4 linked regions of the Homo sapiens genome follow. The protein of the gene in region 1 interacts with the protein of each later gene in a pairwise test. Each region holds a gene or a part of one and is shown in the gene's direction. Other genes may lie near its edges.

Evidence for each region.
Region 2: the proteins of TSNAX (region 1) and NTAQ1 interact in binary tests that used the Homo sapiens proteins (3 or more experiments, as listed by UniProt).
Region 3: the proteins of TSNAX (region 1) and NUP58 interact in binary tests that used the Homo sapiens proteins (3 or more experiments, as listed by UniProt).
Region 4: the proteins of TSNAX (region 1) and KRT31 interact in binary tests that used the Homo sapiens proteins (3 or more experiments, as listed by UniProt).

Annotation. Positions count from the first base shown.
Region 1 is NC_000001.11:231,524,150-231,531,685, forward strand, and holds the start of TSNAX (translin-associated protein X), read left to right. Parts: upstream 1-4,519; 5' UTR 4,520-4,661; coding exon 4,662-4,677; intron 4,678-5,105; coding exon 5,106-5,210; intron 5,211-7,536.
Region 2 is NC_000008.11:123,412,469-123,419,790, forward strand, and holds the start of NTAQ1 (protein N-terminal glutamine amidohydrolase), read left to right. Parts: upstream 1-4,305; 5' UTR 4,306-4,381; coding exon 4,382-4,464; intron 4,465-7,322. UniProt on the Homo sapiens protein: Mediates the side-chain deamidation of N-terminal glutamine residues to glutamate, an important step in N-end rule pathway of protein degradation.
Region 3 is NC_000013.11:25,297,226-25,304,625, forward strand, and holds the start of NUP58 (nucleoporin p58/p45), read left to right. Parts: upstream 1-4,399; 5' UTR 4,400-4,548; coding exon 4,549-4,655; exon of another isoform or gene 4,656-5,783; intron 5,784-5,876; exon of another isoform or gene 5,877-5,930; intron 5,931-7,400. UniProt on the Homo sapiens protein: Component of the nuclear pore complex, a complex required for the trafficking across the nuclear membrane.
Region 4 is NC_000017.11:41,394,598-41,402,582, reverse strand, and holds the start of KRT31 (keratin, type I cuticular Ha1), read left to right. Parts: upstream 1-4,974; 5' UTR 4,975-5,043; coding exon 5,044-5,391; intron 5,392-5,587; coding exon 5,588-5,670; intron 5,671-6,006; coding exon 6,007-6,163; intron 6,164-6,959; coding exon 6,960-7,121; intron 7,122-7,212; coding exon 7,213-7,338; intron 7,339-7,514; coding exon 7,515-7,735; intron 7,736-7,985.

The DNA of each region.
Region 1 (7,536 bases):
TCACATTGTCAGGCATAAACCAGGCACAGAAATATTTGTTGAAATATTGTCAAACCTATAAAGTACTTTACATACTTTTTTGTTATGGAGTATTAAAAATAAACTTAAGCCGGCCAGGCACAGTAGCTCACACCTGTAATCTCAGCATTTTGGGAGGCTAAGGTGGGCAGATCACAAGGTCAGGAGTTCAAGACCAGCCTGGCCAACATGGTGAAACCCCATATCTACTAAAAATACAAAAAAAAAAAAAAATTAGCTGGGCATGGTGGCACACACCTGTAATCCCAGCTACTCAGGAGGCTGAGGCAGAAGAATCGCTTGAACCTGGGAGGCAGAGGTTGCAGTGAGCCAAGATCGTGCCATTGCACTCCAGCCTGGGTGACAGAGCGAGACTGCATCTCAAAAAAATAAATAAATAAAAATAAAAATAAAAATAAACTTAAGCCATATTGTTTAATGCTTTTTCCTAATAACATTGAATTATCTATATATTTACATGTATATAGTAAATTTACATATATATATATACACAATATATTTACAAGACTTGAAAGGAATGTTTCCCAACACTTTTAAAAATTTGTTTTAATAGCTTCATTGAAGTATAATTCACATGTAACTCATCATTTAAACTGACTGATTCAATAATTTTTAGTATATTCACAAATAGGTGAAACCATCACCCTAGTCAATTTTAGAACATTTCCGTCTCCTCACAAAGAAACCCTACATCCTTTAGCTATCACCCCTCCACCTCACTGTTACATGGCCCCTAGCCCTAGGCAACCTTGAATCTACTTTCTATCTATAGATTTGCCTATTTTGGACATTTTATATAAATGGAATCATATAATAAGTGGTCTTTTGTGACTGACTCCTTTCACTCTGCATAATGTTTTTAAGTTTCATCCATGTTGCAGCATGAATAGTACTTCATTCCTTTTTATTGCCAAATGATATATCATTTTGTTTATCCATTTATCTACTGATAGACATTTGGGTTATTTCTACTTTTTGGTTATTGTGAGTAGTGCTGCTATGAACATTTGTGTTCAAGGTATATAGTTAACAGTGGAATTGCTGGGTCATATGGTAATTCTATGTCCAACTCTTTGAGGAACTGCCAAATTGTCTCCTATAGTGGCTGGACCATTTTACATTCCTACCAGCAATTGATCAGGGTTCCAATTTCTTCATATCTTCACCAATTATTATTTTCTGTCTTCTTTTTAAATTTAGTCATCCTAGTGGATTTGAAGTGATATCTCATTGTGGTTTTACCCATCACTCTTTACTTCTTCAATATGAGCTTCTCTTTCTTGTGTTATAAAACTGGAACATCATTTTCTCCTACTACATCCTAGCATTGCTTGAAAAATAAATCTTTGAATTTATTCACAATAAAGGTAATGTGTACACTTCACAATACCACTCTGGATCCCACAGATATCTTTTAAATATTATGGTTATCTTTTAAAAAACAGAAACTCCAGATTCTTACAATTCCCCATGATCTCTTCTACCCCAGGATTTAGTTATTTATGTAATAACTAAATAAGGGAAATGCTGAAATAGATAATCTGTTAATTATCTTCTCTTTACTGGATTATATGATTTTCCTTCAATATCCAAAACCAGTTTTTTTTGTTTGTTTTTGTTTTTGTTTTGAGGTGAAGTCTTGTTCTGTGGCCCAGGCTGGAGGTCAGTGGCGCTATCTTGGCTTACTGCAAACTCCCGCCCTGGGTTCAAGAGATTCTTCTGCCTTAGCCTCTGGGGATTACAGGTGCGTGCCACCACACCCAGATAATTTTTGTATTTTTTAGTAGAGACTGTTTCACCATGTTGGCCAGGCTGGTCTCGAACTCCTGACCTCAAATGATCTGCGCGCCTTGGCCTCCCAAACCAGTTTTGATATGCGATTTTTCTCTTAATCTAATGGTGACCAATGAGAGGATTTATGAACTGAATAACCACCATGCAATTGAAAGGCTTAGTGCTTCATTCAGAGTCAAATATAGGCAATTAGAATGCAACAGGGGGCCAGGCACAGTGGCTCACTGTAATCCCAGCACTTTGGGAGGCCTAGGCAGGTGGATCACTTGAGCCCAGGAGTTTGAGACCAGCCTGGGCAACATGGCGAAACCCCGTCTCCACAAAATGGAGAGAAAAAAAAAATTAGCCGTGCATAGTAGCATGTGCCTGTAGTCCCAACAACCTGGGAGGCTGAGGTGGGAGGATCACTTGAGCCCGAGGAGGTCGAGGCTGTAGTGAGTGAGCCGTGGACTGCAGCCTGGGTGACAGTGAAACCGTGTCAAAAAAAAAAAAAAAAAAAAGCAACAATAACAAGTAAAAACAACATCAGAGGTAAGATCCTACTAAAAATCTTTACCTTCCTCTCCCTGACTTGGGGTGGTTGTCTTCCTTTAAAAAACAAACAAAAAACTGTTTTGCCAAGTACCAAAACTATGTGTTTGCATCTGAAGCAATAAAACAAGGAGACCAGGTAGGGATGCAGGTTGTTACAGAAGTTGAAATCTATTTCCTGACAAAGGAGTAGCTACAAGTTGGAACACCTGGGGAGGCCTGGGGTAAATGCATATGCAAATAAGTGCTGGGAAAGTGCTCCTGGGATTCACCTCCCTTAAATACTTTCAGAAGTCATTACAGGTTATGAAACTTAGTGTTCTAATCATTACATTTATGGGAAAGAGTGGAAAGCAGTTCAGGTAACATAGCTGTAGTTGAACAGGCTAGGGGAGTGGTGGCTGGAGAAAGAAAAGAAATATAGTTGATCCAGGTTTTGGAAAGTTGAGATCTTGGGATGTGCTACTCCAGGAGAGTTAGGAAAAATACCCTTTTCCTCGACTATGGTACAGTACAGTAAGTATTGACTCTGAAAATGTTCGTAAGTACTGGCTTCCTTGGATCTAGAGGGAGTCACATTAAAATGGCTACATTTGTATCAGAGCTGTCTTTTATTCTTTTTGGCATGGTCAAGTCATTTCTAATCAGAGTAGGGGGAATACTGGTAGATCAGACGTCACTCAAACTCATGAGAATTATCTGTTTAACATCCACAAAGCAAGTAGCCCAACAAGCAAGGTCCCCAGGAGCCTACTTTATCCTCAAGGAATCTGCTTAGTCAATTGACGTATTCACAGGGCTGGAGAGGTATGAGTGGTGGTTACCTTCGTGCCAGAGCAGAACATGCCTTGTAGTTACTGCCATATTCTAGCCAAGTTACTCCATTTACTGTTCCTTTGTTCCTAAATTAACAAGGAGAAAAGACTGTGTGTTCAACACATGACCACAATAGAGAGGTTATTTAGAGAAAGCTTAAAATGTACTTGTGTTTTCTGTACTAGGCCTAGGGCACCCCAGTTATGAAGCCTTGGCCTGAGTTTCTCTCTAGACGGTGCTGAATTGCCATCTAGTTACCTATTCTGACACCAGGAACATGATTCTTCAACAAACATTGACGGAAGCTTACATGGGACCGGATCACAGCGCTGAGAAGCACTGGGGCTAAGGGGCGGCACAAAGTCTAGATATGGTGGCAGCACCTGCTCATAATGAAATGCCCACAGTTTAGTGGAACACAGCTGCTATTACTCACCTGTCTATCATTTTGTTTGGGAGAGCCCTGGTGGGAGAGGAGTATGGTATTTAATATTTAATTGAGCAGTTATATGTGAAAGAGCGTTTTCACGAGACTTAACTCCTTTCATCCTCAAATAACCCTACAAGGCGGGTACTATTCTATCCCTATGTTACAGATAAGGAAACTGAGGCAGAGAAGTTGCGTGCTTCATCAAGGTCACACAACCACTCCGTGGAGGCAAGTTGAACACAGGCTGTCCGGCTTCTGAGAGCCAGTGGAGAGGAGGGAGACGGTGGGAGACGGGCAGGGGGAAAAGGTGGAAGTAGACCCGAAGGGCAGGCTTGATCTTCATAAGAGAAAACAGTACTAACACCATCCACTGATTGACTCGCATATTTCCATCACTTAAAGCTCCTGGCGTCACTGCCAGGAATGGAAAGTTAAAAAACTCCCAGCTCTGTAAGGTTCTGCCTGGATCCTGAAAAAAACCTTCCCACATGCCCCGAGGAAACTCGAGGGCTCGCTTCTTTCTCACATCCCTGGCCCGGGGCACCGGAGGTCCCGCTCCGGCGGAGGAACTACAACCCCCACAGCACCGCGCGCGAAGCTGGGCCCCCCTGAGGGAAGGGTAAGGTGTCCCGAAGGTGCCTTCAGAAAAAAATTACGTACGTTTTTCGTCGCTTTCCCACGATCACACAGATCTCAGGTCCAGGAGGACGCATCGTCTTTTTAGTAACAGTGCATGCTGTGAGGCTTGTAGAGTCGCCTCTCTCTTCAGGCGCAGCAGAGGGCGGCCGCAATAGTACGCTCGCGCGGCGGTGGCGGGTGGTGGTCCTTGGACCACGCGGTGGGCGGAGCCAGCGGCGACGGCCTCCCCTCCCCTCCGGACGCAGGCCGGAAGTACGTGAGAGGAGACTTCCGGCCACTGCGTTGTAGTCGGCCCGGCTGCAAAGCGTTTTTCTGCAGGCTGTTTTCCCAGGTTCCCTCGGCCTGTACCTCGCGCACTCCTCTTGCTCCAGGTCCTTCAGTCTCCGCTCGTCTCACCGTAGGCTGTGACGACATGAGCAACAAAGAAGGTGGCGTCCTTAACAACACGGGGCGTTATTTATCCGGAGGGGGAGGTTCTCCAGTCTTTCTATGCAGTTTTCCCCTTTTCACCCTTGAAGGATGCCTTCGTCCCTTGTAGACTCGGGGGCGGCCCCTCTGTTTCTCTCCCCGGCCAGATCGGCCCTGTTTACACCTCCTTTTTTCTTAAATTTTTGAGGTGTGATTTTATCCTAGTTCAGTAATTGCTGTAATGCCAGATCATAGCACCAGTTGGTGGAAACTTGGATGATTTGCTTGGAAAGGCCTGGGCAGCGTCTCTGTCAGTCTGCGGAGAAAGCCTCTAAGGCGAGGGCCCTGTGGGTATCTGGTTTTAAAGCAAGGAGTAGGTTTGTCTATGTTGTGTTTTGCAAACTCTTGGTGATGGAAGATCCCTCTCTTTTTTTCTTCTCTATATAAGGATCAGGAGGGTTCAGGAAAAGGAAGCATGACAATTTCCCACATAACCAAAGAAGAGAAGGGAAGGATGTTAATTCATCTTCACCCGTGATGTTGGCCTTTAAATGTAAGTTCTCTGCAATGTAAGTTGAAGAAGGGGAGAGAACAAAATTATTTAGCCATGGTTATGCGCAAGAAAACAGTCCCTAAGAATTTAATGTGAAACTTTAGCTGGAGGTTTTGTGATGGCGCTAGATGTACCCTAAAAGTCTGGATTACAAAGGCCTTCACTTTTATGTCCCATTAAGAGAAATATTAGTAATCAGGTAAACATGACTTAAACACAAGAAACAGTAAACATTAATTAATATTTGACATGTCACATACTCAAGAATTGTGTACCTGATAATATTTACTCATCTGTTATATGCTAAAATATATTTTCATTTAGTGTGTATTTGTTTCCTCTACTAGACTTGAAGACAGGGACGGTATCTTTGTTTTAACTGTAACACTTAGCACAGAGTGGGAGCTTGTATCTATTAGTGAATCTCGCATATCTATATACACATATTTTCACAGTCCCCTTTTCTCAGCATATTAACTTGGACAAGTTATTCCTCAATTCAAAACAAACACAAAACAAAATCCTCTTCCTTTTGTCCCTGTCTATCCACTATCCTGTACCTTACGTTTCTGTGATTAAGGAATCTGGGAAGGGCTTAGCTGGTTGATTCCTATTTGCAATCACCTGAAGCCTTGATTGGGGCTGAAGGATCTACAGCTGTTGATAGTTTAGGCCTTTTGCCTGCAACCAGCTCTCTGTTCCTGTCCACATGAACTTCTTGTGCTGCTTGGATGTCCTTTGGTGTGGCATCTGGCCTCCTTCAGAGAGAGAGAGTGCAAGAGAGCAAGGAGGAAACCACAATCTCTATGTCCTAATCTCAGACATCAGACACTGTCATTTTTGTCACATTGTGTTTGTTAGAAGGGAGGCAGTTTTAAAAACTGTCTCACATTGAAGAGGAAGGAAGTTATGTCCCACCCTTTGGAGGGAGGAGTCTCAGGTTATTTGTGGATATATTTGAAAACCACCACAGTATCTACTGTGATCGTCAGAAGTTTAAGACAGCTGGCCGTAATTGAATAAAGAGCGTACTGATACAGAAGGTGGAGTTGCGGCTGGGTGTGGTGGCTCACGCCTGTAATCCCAGCACTTTGGGAGGCCGAGGCGGGGGGATCACGAGGCCATGAGTTTGAGACCAGCCTGGCCAACATGGTGAAACCCTGACTCTAATAAAGTACACGGTGAAACCCCGTCTCTACTAAAAATACAAAAAATTAGCCGGGCGTCAGTAGTCCCCACTACTTGGGAGGCTGAGGCAGGAGAATGGCGTGAACCCAGGAGGCGGAGCTTGCAGTGAGCCGAGATCGTGCCACTGCACTCCAGCCTGGGCAACAGAGCGAGGCTCCGTCTCAAAAAAAAAAAAAAAAAAGTACGAAAAATTAGTTGGTCGTAGTGGGAGGTGCCTGTAATCCCAGCTACTCGGGAGGCTGAGGCAGGAGAATCGCTTGAACCCGGAACGCGGAGGTTGCAGTGAGCCGAGATCGCGCCTTTGCACTCCAGCCCCGGCGACAGAATGAGACTCCATCTCAAAAAAAAGAAAAGGTGGAGTTGCTTCTAAGGTGGTGTCCTCATTACCCGTCTGCTGAACTACAGTTTTTTGGTTTTTTTTTTTTTTTGAGACAGAGTCTCTGTCACACAGGCTGAGATAATAATTAGGCACGATCTTGGCTCACTGCAAAACCTCTGCCTCCTGGGCTCAAGCCATTTTCCTACCTCAGCCTCCTGAGTAGCTGGGACTACAGGCGTGTGTCACCATGCCTAATTTTTTTAAATTTTTTTGTAGAGACAGGGTTTCGCCATGTTGCTGGAGGCTGGTCTTGATCTCCGAGCTCAAGCAGTCTGCCCGTCTCGGCCTCTCAGAGTGCTGGGATTACAGGCGTGAGCCACTGCGCCTGGCCTGAACTACAATTTTCTTTAAGACCTAGCTCAAGTAGCCTCTTTCCTGTGAATGCGTTCTGATTTTTCTCTCAAGCCGACTTGGTGACCAACATGAAATATTTATTGAGTATCTGCTATGTTCTCGCATGTATTAGTAGTGAACAAGAAACGTGGTTTCTGCTTTCATAAGTTTTTTACATATATTTGTTATAGCATGATTACATTTTATTTGTTTACATCTCTGTCCCTCATACAGGACTGAGCTCCTTGAGGATAGGAATTGTTCCTTATCTAACTTTGTGTTCATAGTGTCTGACTTACAGTGGTCATTAATATAGCCATAATAAATAATGAATACATATTGATTATCTTAACCCTGGCCTAGTTATTATCTCAGTAATAAAAGACTAGATATATTTAGATCCATGTCAGCTACTAATTTAGTTAA
Region 2 (7,322 bases), on another chromosome or scaffold:
GTTGCCCAGGCTGGAGTGCAGTGGCGTAATCACAGTTCACTGCAGCCTCAAACTCCTGGGCTCAAGCAATTCTTTTGCTTCAGCCTCCTGGGTGCCTAGGACTACAGATACCACCATGCCTGGCTAATTAAAAAAAATTTTTTTTTTGTAGAGACAGGGTCTTGCTGTGTTGCTTAGGTTGGTCTCAAACTGACCTCAAGCGATCCTCCCGCCTTGGTCTCCCAAAGTTCTAGGATTACAGGGGTGAGCCACTACACCTGGCCTATGTAGTTGTTTATTACGTAGGGTACTGAGTACTGCAGAACTCTCAGCACAACTTGGTTCCAAATCCCTGCACTAACAGACTTGACCAAACTCTAGCATGGCTTCTAGCAGTATAAGGCTATGTCAGCCTTCTCCCCCAAACCCCCCATTAAAATGCCTGCTTAAGAAAGCTCAAAGCTCCCAGGAAAATTTACTATTTGTTGTTGCCAGTACCTGATGATAGGCCCCTGACCTCCTTTTCTTAGAGCATTTACTAAAAGGGCTTAGAATTGTAAATATGTATTACTTACAACTCAGAAGTCCTTCTCAAGGACTTAGAGAGCCATTCCTTTGAAATGTAATCATCAGGAAGGATAGGGCCTCTGACTCCCAGTCTCTGTGGGAGGATAGAATCCTAACTTAGATAACTGCCAGCTAGCAGACACGACTGGCCTAATGGTATTTACACTGACCAACCCTTTGTAATTTTCACTTCCCTGGCTCTAATGAGCGCCCCCCCCCCCCCAACTCCTCCCTGCTTCCTCATTCTTCTTTCCAAATGCCCAAATTACCTCTGCACAATTGGAATGGAGCTCAGCTCTTTCCCCTACTGTCAATAGTTGCTGAATAAAATCTGTTTTCATCGCTTTGACTGATGGTCAACGGCTATGTTTATTTTTGACAGTACCTATGTTCTGCCAGGCACTATGCTAAGTGTTTTGCAGAGATTAGTTTATTTAATTTTCACTGCAGCACCCATTAGATAAGCACTCTACTATTATTATCCTCATTTTGCAAAGAAACTGACGCTCAGAAATCCTAGTGTTACTTATCCAAGGTCACTCAGGGTAGTAAGTAGCCAAGATAAGATTTGAGTGTGTTTCTGACTACAGCACTATTTATACTATTCTACCTCTCAGGGCAAGACCCATGCCCTGGAAGAGCTCATGGCAGAGGTAGAGACAGATTGAGTTGCTGAGCATGCTACTGCTTTTCAAGACATATGAATAAAAGTTGTGACAAAACAGGAAAAAAAGCTCCAGGAAGATGGAAGCCAACAATAAACTCTTCCTGGGAAAAGCTGCAAATAAGGCATGTGAAAGAATGCATCAGACAGAGTGTACATACATCTTGTGCAAAGGCTTGGGGTATCAAAGGAAGAATAAGACACTCAGTGACAAGAGTATGGCGGCGGGGAGGGTGGCCGAGGCGGGCAGATCACTTGAGGTCAGGAATTTGAGACCAGCCTGGCCAACATGGTGAAACCTCACCTCCACAAGAAAATACACAATTTAGCTGGGGTGGTGGGGGCGGAGGTTGCAGTGAGTCAAGATTGCACCACAGCACTCCAGCCTGGGCGACAGAGTGAGACTCTTATCTCAAAAAAAAAAAAAAAAAAAAAAAAAAAAGTATAGGGTATGCGGGAAATAATGAAATCAGATTTTTTTAACAAAAAATCATAGTTGCTAACATTTATATTATATGCTACCAACTATTCTAAGTACTTTATATACATAAACTCAACTAATCCTCATAATGACCCTATGAGGTAGTAGCATTATCTTTAACTTCATTTTACAGATGAGGAAAGTGAGACACAGAAGAGTGAAGTAACTTTGCCCAAGGTGACCCAACTGGCAAGTTGTAGAACCTACCCAGCCTAGCTTCAAAGTCCTATAGTAAGTAGTTTGTGCCCAATCAGGATAAGAAACTACACAGTAGGTCAAGCAAGGGAAGTTAAATGTAAAGAACTATTAATTATGTTAGCTGCGCACGGTGGTGCGTGCCTGCAGTCTCAGCTACTCAGGAGGCTGAGGCTGGAGGATCACTTGAGCCCAGGAGTTTGAGGCTGTAGTGAGCTATGATTGCACCACTGCACTCCAGCCTGGGTGACAGAGGGAGACCCTGTCCCCCACCAAAAAATTATTATTAACTATGATAAAGGCATAACGATAACACATAAGGAAACTCTATTCAGTACCTTACCGTATAGAAGGTAGGGTTAGGGAGGACCCTGGTTTTTGTGTCAAGAGGCTGAAGAAAGGTTATTGCCAGGCTAAACCTGCAAGGTTAGGAAGGGACCATGTTCTGAGTCTGGGGCTGGGGCAGACTCCACAAGGATGTTCTCACCACTACACCTGTCCCACTCACTTTAAATGGAGCATTTAGACCATTTACATTCAATGTTAGGATTGACTTGTGAGGTACCATTCCATTCATCGTGCTTTGTTGCCTGTGTACCTTGTTTTTTTTTGTTGTTTTTTAAATTGTATTTTTGTTGTATAGGTCCTGTGTGATTTATGCTTTAACGAGGTTCTGTTTTGATGTGTTTCCAGGATTTGTTTCAAGATTTAGAACTCCTTTTAGCAGTTCCTGTAGTGGTGGCTTGGTAGTGGCAAATTCTCTCACCATTTGTCTGAAAAAGACTGTATCTTTCCTTAATATATGATGCTTAGTTTCGCTGGATACAAAATTATTGGCTGATAATTGTTTTGTTTGAGGAGGCTAAAGATAGGGCCCCAATCCCTTCTAGCTTATAGGGTTTCCCACTCACTTTAAAGGAGAAATGTTTACCAGAGTTGTTATATAGCATAGAGGCTATGTGGAAGTTTGTATTAGGAGCTGAGAGGCAATAAAATTGGTAATTGACACAGGAACTGTGCTCCAAGTCTTTAGGATTTATCAGCTTTGAGACTGAAGAGATTGGAGAATCCAACTGTGGATGGCTAAAATCAATGTAAACATCTCAGTTTTTATAATGGGAAGTACCCTGATTAGCTAGCTATGCTCATTGCAAATATAAACAATTCAGAAGACTGTAAAGTGTAAAGACCTTGAAACTGAAAGTCCCTGATATTAATATCATTCATTCACCAGAGATAAACACTATTTTTTTTTTTTGAGACGGAGTCTCACCCTGTTGCCCAGGCTGGAGTGCAATGGCACCATCTCGGCTCACTGCAACCTCCGCCTCCCGGGTTCAGGCGATTCTCTTGCCTCAGCCTCCCGAGTATCTGGGATTACAGGCGCGCGCCTCCACGCCCAACTAATTTTTGTATTTTTAGTAGAGACGGAGTTTCACCATGTTGGCCAGGCTCGTCTCGAACCCCTGACCTCGTGATCCACCCGCCTCGGTCTCCCAAAGTGCTGGGATTACAGGCGTGAGCCACCGCACCCGGCCCTAAACACTATTTTAACAATATGGTGTCTTTTCTTCCAGACTGCCAGTAATTGAACAAAATATATGATTAACACAAAAAGGATACCATATGGACTCTTTAAACTTTTTTTTTTCAAATTTACTGTATCAGGGAATTAATATATCTTTTCGAGCCAATAGCTACAGGCCTTCCAATTTAAAAGATTAAGTTACAATAGAGTGAGATTTGGGGTGCTATCCCTTTCGGAAAGCGTCCTCGATGCGGTCATATTGGAATTAACCTCCACTCCCCTCTTCTCTGGGCTCCCGCAGACTCCAGGCTGAGTGCAGAAGCGTGGATTTTCACACCCAAACCTCTGTTATTTCAGTGTCTCACCTGGCTTCTCCACAGCGCAGAAGCTCAGCCCCTGGTTGGAAGAGCCTCCCCGCGGAGATTCACAGCAAAGCGCCATTCAGGGCCCAACTCCAAGCCCAAACCTAGCTCCTCCCCAAGCCGCCGCCAGAGACCCCTCTTCTCCCAAAGCTCACCGGGGCCCCGCCCCTGACTCCGCCCACCAGAGCCCGGTCCTCCAGTCCCGCCCCATCCCGGGCCCCACCCACCAGCCGGGCTCCGCCTACCCGGAAGCGCGCTGTCCTCCTCGTCCCGGGCTCCGCCCACCGGGAGTTCGCGCCACTCACCCCACCCCGGACCCGCCCACTTCGCTTGGGCTCCACCCTCCCAGGAACTGGCGCCGCTTGCCCCGAGCTCCGCCTACTTCGTCCCGGGCTTCCCGCGCCGGGAACTCGTGCTGCTAGTCCCGCCCTGGCCCCGCCCACCGCGCTACTGGCCCCACCACCCGGAAACTGCCCCGGCCCTCTCCCCCCGGGCTCCGCCCACCCCACGCCGGGAACCCACGCGGGCCACTACAAGCCCGCCCTTTCCTACGTCTGGTCCAGTCGGTCTTCCTCCGGCCCGGGCCCTGGCCCAGCTAGCCGGCCATGGAAGGTAATGGCCCCGCTGCTGTCCACTACCAGCCGGCCAGCCCCCCGCGGGACGCCTGCGTCTACAGCAGCTGCTACTGGTGAGGGGGCGCGGGCGCAGCCTCTGGGTCTCCCAGGCTCCCGGGCGGCGAGTCGCAACCGGGCCCCGCCTCTTCCCGGCCCCTCCTCGGGGGCGCTCCCGGCCTCTACCGGCGGGTTCTACAGTTTTGCGGGAGGAGGGAGCGGGAATGGCAGCTCTCGTCTCTTGAGTAGAGCGTGGGCTATTGGATGGGGTTGGGAATTCGTCCGGAATCATAGGGTCGATAGTGCATTACCTGTGCCTGGCGCTTGTCGGTTGGATTTGCTCAGCAGATCTCTGCTTCGGGGCCAGGAAGGGTGGAGCTCTGAAAATCTTTGGGGGTTACTCTGCTGAAGCCTGTGGGGTTTCAGACTGAGGTGAAGGTCATTTTAATTTTGTAAGAGAATGAAGGCACGGAGAGTTTTTCATACAGCACTTGCTATATGCCACGCGTTGTTCTGGGTGGTTTAGGTAAACTAAATCACTGAGCATCACAATAACCGTAAGAGGTAGGTATTGTTATCCCCAGTTGAAAGATGAGAGCACTGAAGCACAGAGGGCTGCAAGTAATTTGCGCAGGGCCACGTAGCTTGTGAATGAAGGAGTGGGGATTTACAGTCAGGGTCTGGCCCCGGAATCCACGCAGTGCACCCCTGTCCTAGGCCACCTCTGCAGCTGAAGTACCGCCCTTGCCTTAGTCCTCATACCTACTCTTTCCTGAGTAATGGCTTCTTCCCCAGCTTCTAGTCCTTGTACAGGAAACCTCAGTGCTATCTAAACCTACTCCTCCCCCTTCTGCTGGTCACTAAACCAATGCCACCAAGAGCTTAACATTTGTTCGGCCCTGATTGCATGTCAGGCTCAGTGGCAGGTGCTTCCATCGATGTCCAGGAGGTACCTTCTTTTATTATCGTTATCCTCATTTTACTAATAAAAAGACTGAGCCACAGAGAGGCTGTTCTGTGCCCCCAAATCACACATCTAGCAAGTGGTGGTGCTGAAACTGGAACCTCTTCGTGATTCTGAAGTTCATGCATCTTAACTACTGCACTATTTTTCTGTCCTGCCTCTCTTCTAAATCCCGTTAGTTCTCCTCCCTAATGTCCAGTCATTGTTTTATTCATTCATTCAATAAATGTTTATTAGGCACTTGGAGTATGTGGCATACTTCTGGGCACTGGGGATATAGCAGTGAACAAAATCGACAAATTCCCTCATGGATCCCTTGGTTCTTTCATTTTGAGAGAAAAGCAGATAAGGCCCGGTGCGATGGCTCACGCCTGTAATTCCAGCACTTTGGGAGGCCGAGGTGGGCGGATCTCTTGAGGCCAGGAGTCTGAGACCAGCCTGGCCGACATGCAGAAACCCTGCCTCTACTAAAAATACAAAAATTAGCCAGGTGTGGTGGCGTGCACCTGTAATCCCAGCTACTCGGGAAGCTGAGGCAGGAAAATCGCTTGAACCTGGGAGGTGGAGGTTCCAGTGAGCTGATGCCACTGCCCCTTCCTGCCTGGGCAACAGAGCAAGACTCCATCTCAAAAAAAAAAAAAAAATAAAAAGCCAAAAAAACAAGTAAACCATGTTTGGGTGATGTTAAATACTATGAGAAAAATAAGATAAAGGATGGTGACTTATCTTCTATTAGGATATTTTGAGAAGACATTGTTGATAAGGTGATATTTGAAAAGAGATCTGAAAAAAGAGGGTGGGAGCTTTGCAACTATTGGAGGATGGTTGTTTAAGCAGGGAGAACAGCAGGTACAAAGGCTCTGAGAAGGAATGGTGCTGTGAGTGTGATAGGAACAGTGAGGAGGCTGGTACAACTGGAGTATTGGAGTTAGAGCAGTCTTGTAGAAGAATGGTAAGAGATGACCACTCTACCACAGAGTTTCTCCATCTTGGCTTGAGTGACATTTTGAGCATGATAATTCCTTGCTATGGAGGCTGTCCTGTGTATTGCAGGACGTGTAGCAGCATCCCTGGCTTCTACCCACTAGATACTGTTAGCACCCTAGCCCTAGTTATGACAACCAAAAATGTCTCCAGACATTGCTAAGTGTCCTGTAGGGGTTGGGGGGCAAAATCGCCTCTTGCTGAGAACCAGTGCTCTACCCTGTCTGAACACATCAGGTGGGGACACCACACTACTTTGGCTCCTGCAGCTTTGGGGGTTTTTTTTTTTTTTTTTTTTTTTTTTTTTTTTTTTGAGACAGAGTCTCAGTCTGTTGCCCAGGCTGGAGTGCAATGATGCCATCTTGGCTCACTGCAGCCTCCACCTCCCAGGCTCAAGCCATTCTTCTGCCTCAGCCTCCTGAGTAGCTGGGACTACAGGCACCCACCACCATGCCCAGCTAATTTTCGTATTTTTAGTAGAGACGGGGTTTCACCACATTGGCTGGGCTGGTCTTGAACTCCTGACCTCAGGTGATCCACCTGCCTCAGCCTCCCAAAATTCTGGGATTACAGGTGTGAGTCACCGTGCCCGGCCATCCTGCAGGTTTTTTAAGTTGAAATGAATGCCTCCTGTCTACTTCTGTTAGCTTCCGTCATGTTAGCTTCCAGATGTTACTTACGCTTCAAGACCCTGCTTAATGATAATAGTGGCAGCCAGTATTTGTTTGGGACTGTGTCGTCAGCAGAGCATTTCTGATTCTGACTTAATTGTTTTGTGTTTTTCAAACAATTGTGGAGTGCCTGCTTTGTGCCAGGGGTCCTCCCCATCTGCATGCATCTCTGACCTCAGCTCATCACTGGGAACCCCTGGAGTGTCCCAACCTTTCTGCTGCCAAGATGATCAGCTGACAGCTTGGGGCAAATCCACAGCCCTCCCTCCCTCCCTCCCTCCCTTCCTTCCTTCCTTTCTTCCCTCCCTCCCTCCCT
Region 3 (7,400 bases), on another chromosome or scaffold:
TTTATGGATAACTCCTTACATTTATTTTTCTCATTTATTGGGTGATGAGTGAAAAAATTCATCAGGAAATAGACAATTACTGTTCTGACCTGTGATTGGGAACTTTTGTTTTAACTTTAAGCTTTTCCCCCTTAACTTTGTAGTTTGAAAATTTCAAACCTACAGAAAAGTTGTAAAATTATTACAATGAACACCCATATACCTTGTTTTGACAGTCATCCTATAATTTGCATTATTGATTTATCTCTCTATATACATTTGGTTGTTGCTGTTGTTCAATCACTTGAGAACTTAATGAATTTTTAAAGTGGAAGGACACTACTCAAATATTTAAAACCCTAAAATATTTAAGACCTTTTCTGAGAATAATTTTCAAGATAAAGACTGTGATTGAAGGCAAATGGTTACATGTAATTTCTAAAAGATAACCTCTTTTCTGGATATTTCAGAGGACCAGAACTGGAGATATTACAGACTCCTTTCAATAGACTTCAGATTCCCACTTCTTTTCTGTCTTAGAACCGCTGCTGAGAGAGGTTCTCAAATGGTTATCCTGATCTGAACACCCCCACCAAAGCAAACCTATTTTAGATATGTTAATGCAAACACAAATTAGAAGTTTTAGCCTGGGCAACACGGTGAAAACCCATCTTTACAAATAAACAAATTAGCCGGGCATGGTGGTGGACACCTTTATGTAGTCCGAGCTACTCGGGTGGCTGAGGTGGGAGGATCGCTTGAGCCAGACAGGCAGAGGTTGCAGTGAGCCAAGATGGTGCCACTGCACTCCAGCCTGGGCACAGAGCCAGACCCTGTCTCAAAAAGGAAGAAAAAAAAAAAGTAAATTTTTTACAGTGCTATTTCTGTTTGGATAATTCAGTTTGATTATGACATTAACAATGTCATCATCCTGCTGGCAAATCAGCAAAAGATGCAGTTCTCTAACAGAATGCTTACAATATAAGAAGCAAGGAAAGACAAGATGGCCTACTCTAGAATTTAGAATCTGAAGCACTTGCTTCATCCCTGGAAGCAGCAATTCACATAGAACTGACACATAGGTTCAAGTCCTCTAATGTTAAAAAGCGTAATATTTAGAAGATCCTTTGGGATAGGATTTGTTACTCTACCTAGACTAGGTCAGGAAGGTTAAGCCAGATTCCAGTGCTCCATGGTTCTGCTCAGTTGCAGATAGGATTCAGACTTATGTATGCGTAATGCTCAGTTACTGCTATTTTACTGTTTTCCATTCACTAACCAAACCATTGAGCTTATTGAAAGCTGCTTTCTTTGGAGTTTCATTTCTGTAGAATGTAAGGATGTAATTTCTTTCTTCACTAATAGGACAAGCGGCACAAGGTATATGAGATGAGAAGGGGTCTCCAAGATTTAGTCTTATACTTAGTGCATCTAGTGGTAGATTGCAATACTGCTCATCAGATATTCCAGATTTTGTCTCTGCAGTGCTCCTCCTTGAGTGATTTGGGGATTTATTATGTAGTATAACTTAAAATATTCTGCCAGATACAAGGCAAGAAATGCTACACTAAAATTTTGATAAAGTTGAAAGGATAGTTTGCTTGTTAATTGGAATGGCTTCCCCCAAAACCCAAACTTTAATCTAAGTCAGACTTCCTTTATTTCTTTTATAAACGTTCAGCTTCAAAACAGTTATAGATGTGGCTGGGCGCGGTGGCTTACGCCTGTAATCCCAGTACTTTGGGAGGCCGAGGCAGGCAGATCACAAGGTCAGGAGATTGAGATCATCCTGGCCAACATGGTGAAACTCCAGCTCTACTAAAAATACAAAAATTAGCTGGGCATGGTGGCGCATGCCTGTCATCTCAGCTACTTAGGAGGCTGAGGCAGGAGACTCGCTTGAACCAGGGAGTCGGAGGTTGCAGTGAGCCAGGATCTAGCCAGTGCACTCCAGCCTGGTGTCAGAGTGAGACTCCATCCAAAAAAAAAAAAAGTTACAGATTTACAGAATTATTACATAGTGTGCTCATATTCCTCACACCCAGTTTCCCCTATTAGGAAATTAGTCCCTATGATATTTTTACATGTTCTTTCTTTCCTGTGAATATTACAAGTCTTGTTCATTATTATATATTTAAGTGCCAGCCATTTTGCTATTACTAATTGTAGGTTGGTATTCTTCAATAGTTTTGGAAAGAATACACGAGAAAATCAAAAGACATAGGGAGTGCCTTTCTATCTTCCCATAAAAATCATCAGGATCTTTTTTTTTTTCAGTCAAAAGGAAGTCTCCTAGACTTTATGTGAACAATCCTCTTACTGACCACCCTATAGCCATCACTGAAAATAGCTTTCTCTATATCACCGAAGCTTTAAAACTCACAACAATCTTTTATTTTTGCCTCCTGTTCGATAACTATGAAGTTTTTATTTATATCTTAATCCAAATATATCCCTTTTTTCTTTTTTATCATTCCCATTATGACTTCTATGACGTTTAAAATGTTATGGCCGGGCACAGTGGCTTACGCCTGTAATCCCAGCACTTTGGGAGGCCGAGGTGGGCAGATCGCTTGAGGCCAGGAGTTCAAGACCAGCCTGGCCAACATGGTGAAAACCCATCTCTACTGAAAAATACAGAAATTAACCGGGCGTGGTGGCGTGCGCCTGTGATCCCAGTTACTTGGGAGGCTGAGGCAGGAGAATCGCTTGAACTCAGGAGACGGAGGTTGCAGTGAGCCGAGATGGCACCACTGTATTCCAGCCTGGGCAACAGAGCGAGACTCTGTCTCAAAATAAAGTAAAATATAAATTAAATTTAAAAAACAAAATAAAATGTACGTTTCTTTTTAATTATACAAACACAGAGGTGGTGTATTAGTCTGCTTGGCTGATACAACAAAATACCATAGACTGAGGTGGCTATAACAACAGACATTTACTTCTCTCAATTCTGGAGGCTAAGTCCCAGATAAAGATGGGGCAGTTTGGGTTCCAGGTGAAAGCCCCTTCTTGCTCTGTCCTCACATGGCACACAGAGGAGAACAAGCTCTTCGTTGTTTTTTCTCATAAGGGCACTAATCTCGCCATGGGCGACCCACCAAGGTGACCTCATCTAAATTGAATTACCTCCCAAAGGCTCCATCTCCAAATACCAACATATTGGGGTGGGGTAGGGCTTTAACATATGGATTGGGGGAGGAGGGAAATAGTTCAGTCCACAGCTGGTGGCAATGCCCAAGCTCAACGGAAGATTAAAGTACTGAATTAGGGAGAACTGTGAGATGAGGTTAGAAAGACTAATCATACGGAGGTCATCAAGTGCCAAACTAAAGAGCCACTGGGCTTTTTAGATCATAAATCCGGGGGTTGCTTATGGGATGGATTTTGTTAGAGATCACGAGTAGGAAAACCATTTGGGGGAGTAATGTAACAATCCCTGAGGGAAAAATAAAAACTAACACTATGATGACAACCCTCGAATGCACCACCACCAGGAAGCCTTTCCTGATGCTTCGCCAGAGAGGTTCTCTTTAAACGCGAATTTTTCTTGAGTTATCCTAGAAATGTAAGTTACACCTCACATTTCGCCTTCTTTCGTACATGTTCCTGTGCGTTTCCTAATCCTTCCACTTTGTAGTTCCTCCAGCACCGGTTGTGTCCGAGGGCCCTTCTGGCGGAGCCACACTCGCTCGGCCCAAGGTCCCGCCCTCCAGCATCAGGATGCACGGACAGTATTTGTGGACTTGACCGCATCCCAGGAAATCCAGCGGGCCTGGCCACTTCTGGGCGCCAGGACCACAGCCGGCCACCCCACGGACGCCTGGGACGCTCTTCTGGGCCCCCTTCGGGGCTGGGCGTCGGGCTCGCAACAACTGCGACCAACTGGCTCCGCGAGGCCTGGGGCGCAGGGGTGGGGCTCACGTCGTGGGACGGTTGCATGGATTATTTTCGATTGATTTCCGAACCTTCAGGAAGCAGACACGCTCCCCTTCCTTCTTAGGGATGGGGCGGCAGCCAACGAAAGCCCGAAGCCGCCTCCTTTTCTGAGTGGGGAGCTTAGAGATGCTCAGGAGGGACCTCCCCGATTCTGCGATTCTGAGCATCAATTTTGGCAGGAGGCTAGATAGAAGTAGCAATTGACATTCATCACCCTAAAGTGCGGATTATGTCAGTACAGATGCTACGATAGAAGAACTAAAAAATGACAGAAATGGTTTTACTGTTTTTAAACTCTGGGAGCCTACTCCTTTAAGAGATTAGGCAGTACGCCTATTCTCGCCTGGTCCCAGCGTACCTTGCGCGGCTCGCCGTCCCCCACTCACGTACCAGGGCTCATTGCGTGACGGTTACACTTCCGGCGGGCTACGTGCGCGCGGCGAGCGCCGGGCGTACTTTTGCGTGGTTGCTCCACCCCCTCAGCCTTGCCTTCGCCGCCGTTGGGGCTGGAAGTTCCCGCCAGGTCCGTGCCGGGCGAGAGAGATGCTGCCCGGCCCGCCTCGGCTTTGAGGCGAGAGAAGTGTCCCAGACCCATTTCGCCTTGCTGACGGCGTCGAGCCCTGGCCAGACATGTCCACAGGGTTCTCCTTCGGGTCCGGGACTCTGGGCTCCACCACCGTGGCCGCCGGCGGGACCAGCACAGGCGGCGTTTTCTCCTTCGGAACGGGAGCGTCTAGGTAACCGCACTTTCTCGCCTTCCTGGGCCGGATTCACCCCCACCCCCACCCCCGCAAAGCTCCCTTGGTGTCCCCATCCTGTCTCTTCCCTCTGGCTTCCTTCCCAGTGGGGCTGGAGAGAAGCACTTAATCTAGCCGCCCGGCGTCGTAGGCCTCTCGCCGCGGTACCCGGGCCCAGCGCGGCCTGGTGAAGTGGAGGGCGGGATGGGTTCTGTGCTGTGAGGTTTCCAGAATCCACGTATAGTTCAGGCATTATTTGGACCTAGTGGGGTCTTGACTGCGTGGAAGGGCCTTGGGGTCTACCCCGGAGCTTTAGCGATGTGTCAGTCTTAGGCATAGAATGAACATTGAATGAATGAATGAAATTATAGCATACTGTGGAGTTTTATGATAGATAATTCCGATTTCATTGCAGCATTTGCGGTTTTGGATATGACGGTGTTTTAATAACTTTGTGGTTTTTAACCAGCTTTTCAAGCTTTTGTGCCACATGGGACCTTATCTGTTTTTGTTAAAAAAAACAAAAACACTTTTTTACAGTGTTTATTAGTGGTAATTTTCTGCAGTATGTGCAGATTAGTATATCTGATGCGAGAATGTTGTGTTGTAATAACTCAATTTGTCTTTTACTTAAATTACAAAACGTAGGTAGCATGTTCCTTGTTTTTGTGCAACCCATTAGTTCAGGTGGCGACAAAAACATAACTATCCAGAAAGAAACAAAGTGGTGAGACATTTTAATGAGAGATTTAAGCTTTAGAACTCAATTTTTTTTAAGATAAAGGTGGAGGGGTTCATAAAGTTAAGGAGTGTGCACACTGTCAACAAGATACTTCCTGAAGCTTAAAAGATGTGGCTGTAGATTTAAAAGGCAAATACTTAAGCATGACCTGCAGTTTAAAAAGGGAGGGAGGAGGAACCACGGACTACACAGTCAATTCAGAAATTTGAATTTTCATCCATACCTCCGTTATTCTTACTCTACTCGCTCAACAACAGGTTCTGATAATGTTACTTCTGCCATTTCTGTTTGTCTTTATTTCCAGTTCCACAACCCTGCTTAGGCTATTGTCATTCGTGGAACAAATATTTATTGGACAGATTCCCATGTGCAAGGCTCTGTTTTAGGTATTAAGAGTCTTGCTCTCTTGATCCTTACATTCTTATGAAAATAATTTTGATTCTTGTCAGATTTTTAACCAGCTGTCTTTCTTGTTTTAGATGAAAACTACTCCAATCAACTTCTTCAATCTGTTCTGCCACATTTTAGCCAGAGTAATTGAAAAACAAAATTCCCATTGCTCTCTCTTTAATCATTACCCGCCATCGTTAGAATGAAGTTTAAAAAAGAAAAAAAAACTTACCATAGTCTGCAAGGTCCACTTCTGCTGGAACCTCTGGGGACTCATCTTGAGCGGGACTCATCTTGAGCCCATCTTTTTATTTTAGCTATGCAGACCCACTGTTAAAAACAAACACACAACTACCACCCTAAATAACTGAAATGAAGTTTCAGAGAAAGATACCCTTACTTCATGGGATGCACTTTGATATTTTCTATTTCTTTTTTTTTTTAATGTTGCTTATGACTTGATGAATTAATTTTTATATTTCTCTCATGGTCCTGATCTTAGAAAGCCTGTCCTAGCAACATGGCCTTTTCTCTTTTCAAGTGGGCTTTGCCAGCCCCTTCCTTGCAAATATCAAATGGTCTCTTCCCCAGAGAGGCCTTTTCTGACCTGTCAGTCTAGGGGAGATTTCCATTCTCCTAGTACTCTTAGAGTGCTGATCACAATTGTAATCAGTTTGTTATATTTATTGTTAACTTGTTTGTTGTCAGATCTCAGCACTAGAATAATTAATACCTATGTCTCTCACTGACTAGAAACTGCCTGAGGGCAAGGTCTGAGTCTTAATTTCCCACCTCATTGTCAGTCCCAAGGACAGTGCCTGGCATAGAAAAAGGGCTTTAATAACAATTTGAATGACTGAGCAAATGAGTTATTAGTAATAAGCTATAAAAAATTACCCAAGTTTTAGAGAGGCTTGGATAAATTAATGAAAGAGGAGACTGTCCGACATAAATTTGTTAGAGTGCTGGTTGGGAGGCCTGACAGCCCCTAGTGCCACCTAGTGATTTGATGTCTTGAGGTTGGTCATTTTAGGGGAGTTCTCACATCTGGAAAAGGAGTATAATATATTACCTGAGTTGATGAGTGAGATGAAGTATTTAAATATTTAGCATCAAGTCTGGCACTTGCTAAGTGCTCAGTAAATCTTAGCTATTATGTTAGCTACCAAGTCTGCATTAGGGCAAGCTGGGCAAGTTAAAATAACATTCCAGATGTGATTGAGTCAAGTTGGCTTTTCTACAGTACATCCTATCAAGTCCTTGGCAGATAACATTGGTTTGAGGCAATAATTGGTCAAGTTTAGGGTAGCTTTTGCTTTTCTTGAATTTAGTAAATTTCACTGCCACCAAAATTTCTCTCTTGCTTTTGTGGTAGAGAAAAATTTCATTTTGATGTGTTTCTTTGGCAGTATTTTCAACTTTCATTATGTAATACTTCATAATGTCTTCAGTTATGTTGTCAAGATTATATATATATATATATATATATATATATATATATATATGTATTTTTTTTTTTTTTTAAGACAGTCTCACTCTTGTTACCCAGCCTGGAGTGCAATGGCGTGATCTTGGCTCATTGCAACCTCCACCTTACGGGTTCAAGCAATTCT
Region 4 (7,985 bases), on another chromosome or scaffold:
CCCACACCACATCCCTGGAATGATTTCCTATGCTGCACCTGGCAAAAGCCTCTTTCATTTGCTTTGAAACTTACCTTGATGCCCATGGATCCTGTGGGGATGCCACAGGGCTGAAGCGATGGGCCATCACCACCGCCTCTCCTGTGGTCTCCAAAGCAACAAGAACCAGATGCCAAAACAATTCATTACCCTGCCTGGCTGAAGACTAGATTATTAAAGGGAACAAGATTCTAATGAGAACAGTTCTCTGAATTCTGCTTATGAGTCACTTAGAGAGCGAAGCACAAAAAACTCTTTGGGATCAAGTGCATAACCTGAAATGGCTTCATCCCCTCGCCGTGTGGCTGAAAATCATGAGCTGGATTGGAATGCCCTGAATGGGGTTTGGGTCAGGGGTGGGTGTAGGAAGAAATGGAGTGGGTAGGGGAAGGAGATATTTTTGGGGGAAGGCCCAATCACATTACATTATGCTAGCTGTGGACCTGTCTGCTCAGCAGGACTCAGAGTTCCTGGGGGCAGGGACATGACATACCCCCACTCCCCACCATGTCCCCTGCCCCTGGGACTGTGCCAAGCACACAGTAGATGTTCAACAAGTGACTAATGCCCATAATGTCACATGTACAGTTTTCTTTTTATTTATTTTTAATTTTTAGATGGGGTCTTGCTGTCGCCCAGGCTGGAGTGCCGAGGTGTGATCATGGCTCACTGTAACCTCAAATTCCTGGGCTCAAGCAATCATCCTGCCTCAGCCTCCAGAGCATCTGGAACTAAAATGTGCTCTACCAAGCCTGGCTCATTTTTAAATTTTATTTTATTTTTATTTTTTTAGATGGAGTTTCGCTTTTGTTGCCCAGGCTGGAGTGCAATGGCGTGATCTCCGCTCACCGCAACCTCCGCCTCCCGGGTTCAAGAGATTTTCCTGCCTCAGCCTCCCAAGTGTCTGGGATTACAGGCATGTGCCACCACGTCCGGCTAATTTTGAAACTCATTTTTAATTTTTTTTGTAGACATGGGGTCTTGCTATATTGCCCAGGCTAGTCTTGAACTCATGGGCTCAAGTGATTCTCCCACCTCAGCCTCCCAAAGTGCTGAGATTACAGATGCAAGCCACTGCACCCAGTACCCGTTTTCTATTTACACTGAATACAAACATATTTCTAAATGCCCATCTTACACCTTCTAAATATCTCCTTTCCTTAACTTCTGGCTATTTCTCATACATATTGAGGACCCATCTTGGCCGGAATTGTTCATAAAAAGACATTTTTTTCACCAGAACTATGATTCTTCTGTTTAGTCATATGCTCAGCATAGAGAAGCTGTCTAATCAATGTGTTCTGAATTAAATTGAACTGGATAATGAATGTGGGTTTGATAGCCCATTGACTGCTCAATTTCTCCTTGAATGAAAAAAATTTGCAAATATTCCAACTAGGAAACCAAGAGAATACATGAATTCTACCCCTCGCCTGTGTGAGGTCATGGGGATCTTACAACCCTGGGGTCCCATTTTCCCCACTAATTCAAGGAGCAAATTCACTCAAGCCCATTGAGATCTTGAAAACACTGCAAGAAAGAGGCTAGATTCACAAGAGATGGCAGCATTGTGTTTACTCACCAGCTAGTCTGTCTGTGGTCCCCATCTTGAATTCTTGTGCCATTTCACATTCTGCAGGGCAACCAGCAGGTAGAAAAAGGAATATCTAGGAGTAACCAGAAGATAACAGGGGTTTCTTGTTCTCTCCTACATCTTCTGTGTGGCTGCTGACTGGCCATGACCTGCAGCCAGTGCAGGACTGACTCTCCCTGCTTCATTTCTCCTTTCTTCTCTTCCCACTTCTTATTCCTTCAGGAACAGGCAGTGTCGCTCCTTTTAGACTTTACACTGCCTGTGTGTAGATGGCAGTATATTTCTCAGCCACAAACAATCTCAAGCTTGATCACAGAGGTGATGCTTCGGTCTGGACAGCTTGGAACAATGTCACTTCTTTCAGAGGCCTCAGAAGCTGTAGTCCTGTGTCCATAGATCTTTTATGAGTCAACTCCATTTACGCCTTGCAGGACACTCAGCACGGTGGGCCACTCCTCAGTCTATTGGCTTATTTTGTCTTGGCTTCTTCTCAGCTTTGCATTTTCCAGGTTAGCCCCTCGGAAGCTGGGCTAACTTTGTCTGATTTGCTGCATGATGCTGAGGATTCCTCCCAACTTTTTTCCTTGTCTCTTCTTTTTCTTGTTGTCTCTCCTGGTCTCCGTCTCTTTCCATTTCTCTGATCTCTCTGCATTGTACAAAAATTCTATGTTTGCTCTCTTGTCAATACAATCCTTGAATCTTCTCATACTTAGAGCCTAAACACTCTTCTTTGACTACAGTCTCCATGAGGCTATGCCAGCCAATCAGTAGATAGGAATCAAGAGCTTGGAGAATACTGCTGGCATTTAGTTTGGGCTTAGGTTAAAGCCTGCCTGACTGGGGAAGAAGAAAGGGCTGAGGAAATAGCTGCTTGCTGGAAAGCCAGTGCTTGGAGCAGGCTGACAAGAGTTAGGAAGCAGAAGGCCTATGCTGTCATCTACAAGCTAGTGCTCATCAATCAGATGCACGAGCCTTTCCATTCATCCCAAGCCCAGATGAAATGAGACAGAAGCTCCCCACAGACAGCTGCCACCTAGCCTTGCGTCCTTCCTCTGGAGAGTCTCAGGAGTAACAGTCTGTAGACCCGCCTATTTCTCCCCCTTTAATTGTCTTGTAAGGAAACGAAAGTATTGATTTTATTATAAGTCTAGATCTTCTTTGTAGTGCTGTGGGGCTTTTCATCTGAATGGCATTATAATAAGCAGTGATAATGGTCTTGGGGAGTGTAGATGAAGGACCTTTTATCTGAGACTCAAGCAGAGTGCAACATGAATACCATCATGAAAGCTCAATGGGAGAAGCACTCCAATAAATTGTCAATAAAACGGCAGCTCTGGCTGGCAGCCAAAGCCACAGTGGAGATGGGGGTGCTGCAACTTTTATATATTCAGAACTTTGGCTACCTCTTCCTCAGATCTTCTAGTGCCTTCCTTCACCTCCCAAAGCAACCCCAAATGACTCCAGCTTGCCTTGCAAAACCCCCTTGCTCATGCCGTGCTCAGCATTTTCTTTCCTGGTGCCCAGGTCCTTGGATTTAATTACACAACCACAGAGACCTCCTTTGGTACCTTTAGACCTTTGGTTCTTAAAGCAGGTGGCATCTCCACTCGGGCTGGAGATGGGAAGCCCAGGACAGAATATGGTACATCTTCCTGATGTATCCATTTCTCTTAGAGAATTAAGCAAAGTATTTGAAAGTTTAACTGGAAATTTAAAAGGGGCTTTTTAAAAACATTAAAGCTGGCTGGGCGCGGTGGCTCACGCCTGTAATCCCAGCACTTTGGGAGGCTGAGGCGGGTGGATCACGAGGTCAGGAGATTGAGACCATCCTTGCTAACACGGTGAAACTCCATCTCTACTAAAAATACAAAAAATTAGCCGGGCGTGGTGGTGGGCACCTGTAGTCCTAGCTACTCAGGAGGCTGAGGCAGGAGAATGGCATGAATCTGGGAGGCGGAGCTTGCAGTGAGCCGAGATCGCTCCACTGCACTCCAGCCTGGGTGACAGAGCAAGACTCCATCTGAAAAAAAAAAAAAAATATATATATATATATATATATAAAGATTAAAGCCAACATGGATATATTATGGAATATAGGGTCAATTCATATGAAGTTTAAAGATCAACTACAAGTGATTTCAGGCCGTGGAGGCCCCTTTGGGCTATCTCCTGACTTTCCTAACATATCCATCTACTCTGTTCGGATACTATGGATAACCTTAGGAAATGTTTGACAAAGACCTCCTTATTCCTTTCTCTCTGCCCCTGAATATCTTTCCTAGATTATTTAAATGCATTTTTTTTGTTTTGTTTTGTATTTTGAGATGGAGTCTTGCTCTGTCACCAGGCTGGAGTGCAGTGGCACCATCTCGGCTTACTGCAACCTTCACCTCCCAGGTTCAAGTGATTCTCCTGCCTCAGCTTCCCGAGTAGCTGGGACTACAGGTGGGTGCCACCATGCCCAGCTAATTTTTTTGTATTTTTAGTAGAGATGGGTTTCACTATGTTGGCCAGGATGGTCTCTATCTCTAGACCTCGTGATCCGCCGGCCTCGGCCTCCCAAAGTATTGAGATTACAGGCGTGAGCCATTGTGCCCAGCCTTAAATGTGTTTTTTATGGCTCTCTCGGTTTGCACTTTTCAGCCTCTTTCAAAACGATCTCTTACCCCAGAAACTTCTTGTTCTCCAACTAGTTATCAAAGCCTCTACCTTTAAAATTCTCTCCTCTACAATTTTCTTAAGTAATATGTGGTGGTGGGGGGGAAGTATTACACGGACCCGTAAAACACAAATCGCTGTCTAATCTTTTCAGTCGTGTCCTCCATTGATTCTAATCATCCACCTTAAGGCTTCCAAGGCACAGAATGCTCCATCATTTGAAGATTCTTCTCTAAATGCAGAGGGAAAGACAGTCCACTGTGGCCTCTTAATGCAACTTCTTCCTCAAATCAATCCGTGTTTCTCCCTAGAAACGGCAGGTGGACCAGGACATGAGTATGTTTATGGGCCTGCAGAATTATGTGACACAAAAGAATGTCATCGGATGGATCAACACCTCAATTAATGAGGGCAGATACTTGGGCTGGACTGTGTAGCCTCTTTGAAGGCCTACCACAGAACTCTGATTTCATGGGTGGACTGTCTGCGGAGGAGTCCTGACTTAGCAAGAAGCCCAAGTAAAGAATTTTATGGGAGAAGGGACTCTTCAGAGGAAGGCAAATAACAGACTGAAGGAAAGGGCGTTTGAAAAGAAGTGAAGAAATAAAAAGAAAAAAGACATTACATACTGTGTCCACACCCTCTGCAGTGGGATATAAATGCTCCCTAGAGGAAGGAGACCCACAGCTCTGTGGCTTGGAGAATTTAGACTCTGTCTTCAGCCAGGCACTCCCTCCCTCCCTCCCAGCACTATGCCCTACAACTTCTGCCTGCCCAGCCTGAGCTGCCGCACCAGCTGCTCCTCCCGGCCCTGCGTGCCCCCCAGCTGCCACAGCTGCACCCTGCCCGGGGCCTGCAACATCCCCGCCAATGTGAGCAACTGCAACTGGTTCTGCGAGGGCTCCTTCAATGGTAGCGAGAAGGAGACTATGCAGTTCCTGAACGACCGCCTGGCCAGCTACCTGGAGAAAGTGCGTCAGCTGGAGCGGGACAACGCGGAGCTGGAGAACCTCATCCGGGAGCGGTCTCAGCAGCAGGAGCCCTTGCTGTGCCCCAGTTACCAGTCCTATTTTAAGACCATTGAGGAGCTCCAGCAGAAGGTGAGCGGCATTGCTGTCATCTCCAAGCAAGAGAGTTTGCTGTGATTCTGTCTGTGATAGAGAAGTGTGTTTCTTGCTTCTGTGCTGTCATAATTCTTGCTTCCTCTTTTATTTCAAAATGGCTTAAGTCATTTTTAAAAAGTTGATGATTTCATATTTATTTTCAGTCCTCACTAAGCCACCTCTCACTCCCCAGATCCTGTGTACCAAGTCTGAGAATGCCAGGCTTGTGGTGCAGATCGACAACGCCAAGCTGGCTGCGGATGATTTCAGAACCAAGTGAGTTGTTCGGAATTTGCACTAGTGTCAATTGCTTCTGTTTAATCTTTAAAGAAAAGGGATTTCCATCTGAAAACAGATCTACCCACTTGTTGTGAAGGATTCTGCAGAGGACTGGGGAGAACCAAGCAAAGAAATGCAAAAATGGATGAGGACTCACATCAATCTGTTTGTTTTGGGATGAATATTGGGTATTGATGGAGCCTCCAGAAACCTCTGTCTCCTGGGCCTATTCATTACAGAAAGTGGAAAGATAAGGCACATGAGGTTATCAAAAATCATTCCTGTGAGTCTTGAAGATCTACCAGGTAGTACTCTGACCCTGTCCTTGCGCAGGTACCAGACCGAGCTGTCCCTGCGGCAGCTGGTGGAGTCGGACATCAACGGTCTGCGCAGGATCCTGGATGAGCTGACCCTGTGCAAGTCCGACCTGGAGGCCCAGGTGGAGTCCCTGAAGGAGGAGCTGCTCTGCCTCAAGAGCAACCATGAGCAGGTGAGACTAGAAATGAGAAATGCACAAACCTGTCTCAGCCTCTGGCTCAGGGTTGCTTTAGTGATTTGGGGCAGCAGAATGCAGAGTATGAGTACAAGACTGAGGGTTTCCTTTGAAAACATCACGGTAAGAGAAAAATTGGAGAGAGATAAGACCTGTTCATGTTCCCAGACAGGAAACATCTTTCACTTTAAACTAGCACATTATTTGAGTTGCCCGGAGCAGCTCCATGTGCTTGCAGTTGATCAATAGTTGTAGAATGAGTCCTAGCATTGCAGTGTTATTGCTTTGTAAAGTCTTTTTTTTTTTTTTTTGGCAAAGGCCAAGAAAAAAAATATCAAACCTTATAAATGTGAGTCTCTACTCTTTCAAAGTATTGGTGAAGAGTGTTTGTGAGATTCTTCCTCTCTCTTGGGAGGGGCCATGACATGCTCTTACCTCTTACTTGACAGCAAGAGTTTTTTGATATATGGTCTGAAATTGCACAGCCTATTTTTTTTGGCATTCTGAGGTCCTCACAGCCAATTGTAAACTGGGAAAGTTGAATATCAATTAGTTCATCCTTCAGTGGCATCCAAGCAAACTTTTGGGATTTTTTTCTGAAGCCAAGTGCCATGGCACAGCAGATGGTGGGGAGGGGGCTATGCCACATGGAGTGCCTTGAGCTGTCACAAACTGCTCCACTCAAAGTTTCTTTTCCGAGAAAATAGACTAACAGGGTTTCAACAAGCAATGCCATTCCTTAGAGTTCATTCTTTGCTGAGCATAGTAACTCTTGTATTTTCTGCATCCATAGGAGGTCAATACCCTGCGCTGCCAGCTTGGAGACCGCCTCAATGTGGAGGTGGATGCTGCTCCCACTGTGGACCTGAATCGGGTGCTGAACGAGACCAGGAGTCAGTATGAGGCCCTGGTGGAAACCAACCGCAGGGAAGTGGAGCAATGGTTCACCACGCAGGTGGGCATCTAAGCACGTGGCCCCTCAGGACCCAAGGCCCCCCAGGGCCCCGGAGGCAGGGTCTGATCCTTTCTCCCCTTGGGTGTTTCAGACCGAGGAGCTGAACAAGCAGGTGGTATCCAGCTCAGAGCAGCTGCAGTCCTACCAGGCGGAGATCATCGAGCTGAGACGCACAGTCAACGCCCTGGAGATCGAGCTGCAGGCCCAGCACAACCTGGTGTGTATTGTTCAGACCTGCTGGTGAGCGACGGGAACTTGGGAGGCAGAGTCCCGGGGATGTGCTTGGGGCCACACACTCTCCTTAGCTCTTGGAGCTTGTGACTTCCTTGTAATCCTGTGAAGAAACCCTTTGAAGGAGCAGCTCTCTGACATTCCCAATCTTCTCCACCACAGCGAGACTCTCTGGAAAACACGCTGACAGAGAGTGAGGCCCGCTACAGCTCCCAGCTGTCCCAGGTGCAGAGCCTGATCACCAACGTGGAGTCCCAGCTGGCGGAGATCCGCAGTGACCTGGAGCGGCAGAACCAGGAGTACCAGGTGCTGCTGGATGTGCGTGCCCGGCTGGAGTGTGAGATCAACACATACCGGAGCCTGCTGGAGAGCGAGGACTGCAAGTGAGTACATGGGCAGACGTGTTTGATGAAATGATGCACGTGTGAGTGTAACAGTTAGACACCATGCAAATATTGCATACCTTGGAAAGGAAATTATGCCTTCACACTAGACATGCTCAAACAGAACTCAGACAACATAATATGGCCATCATTTAAAACATAAATGGTTTGGTAGCAAGAGTTGTTTGATGTACAAACTGAAATTGCACTGCCAAGTCTTTGCATTCTAGTATGATAATATGCATGACTG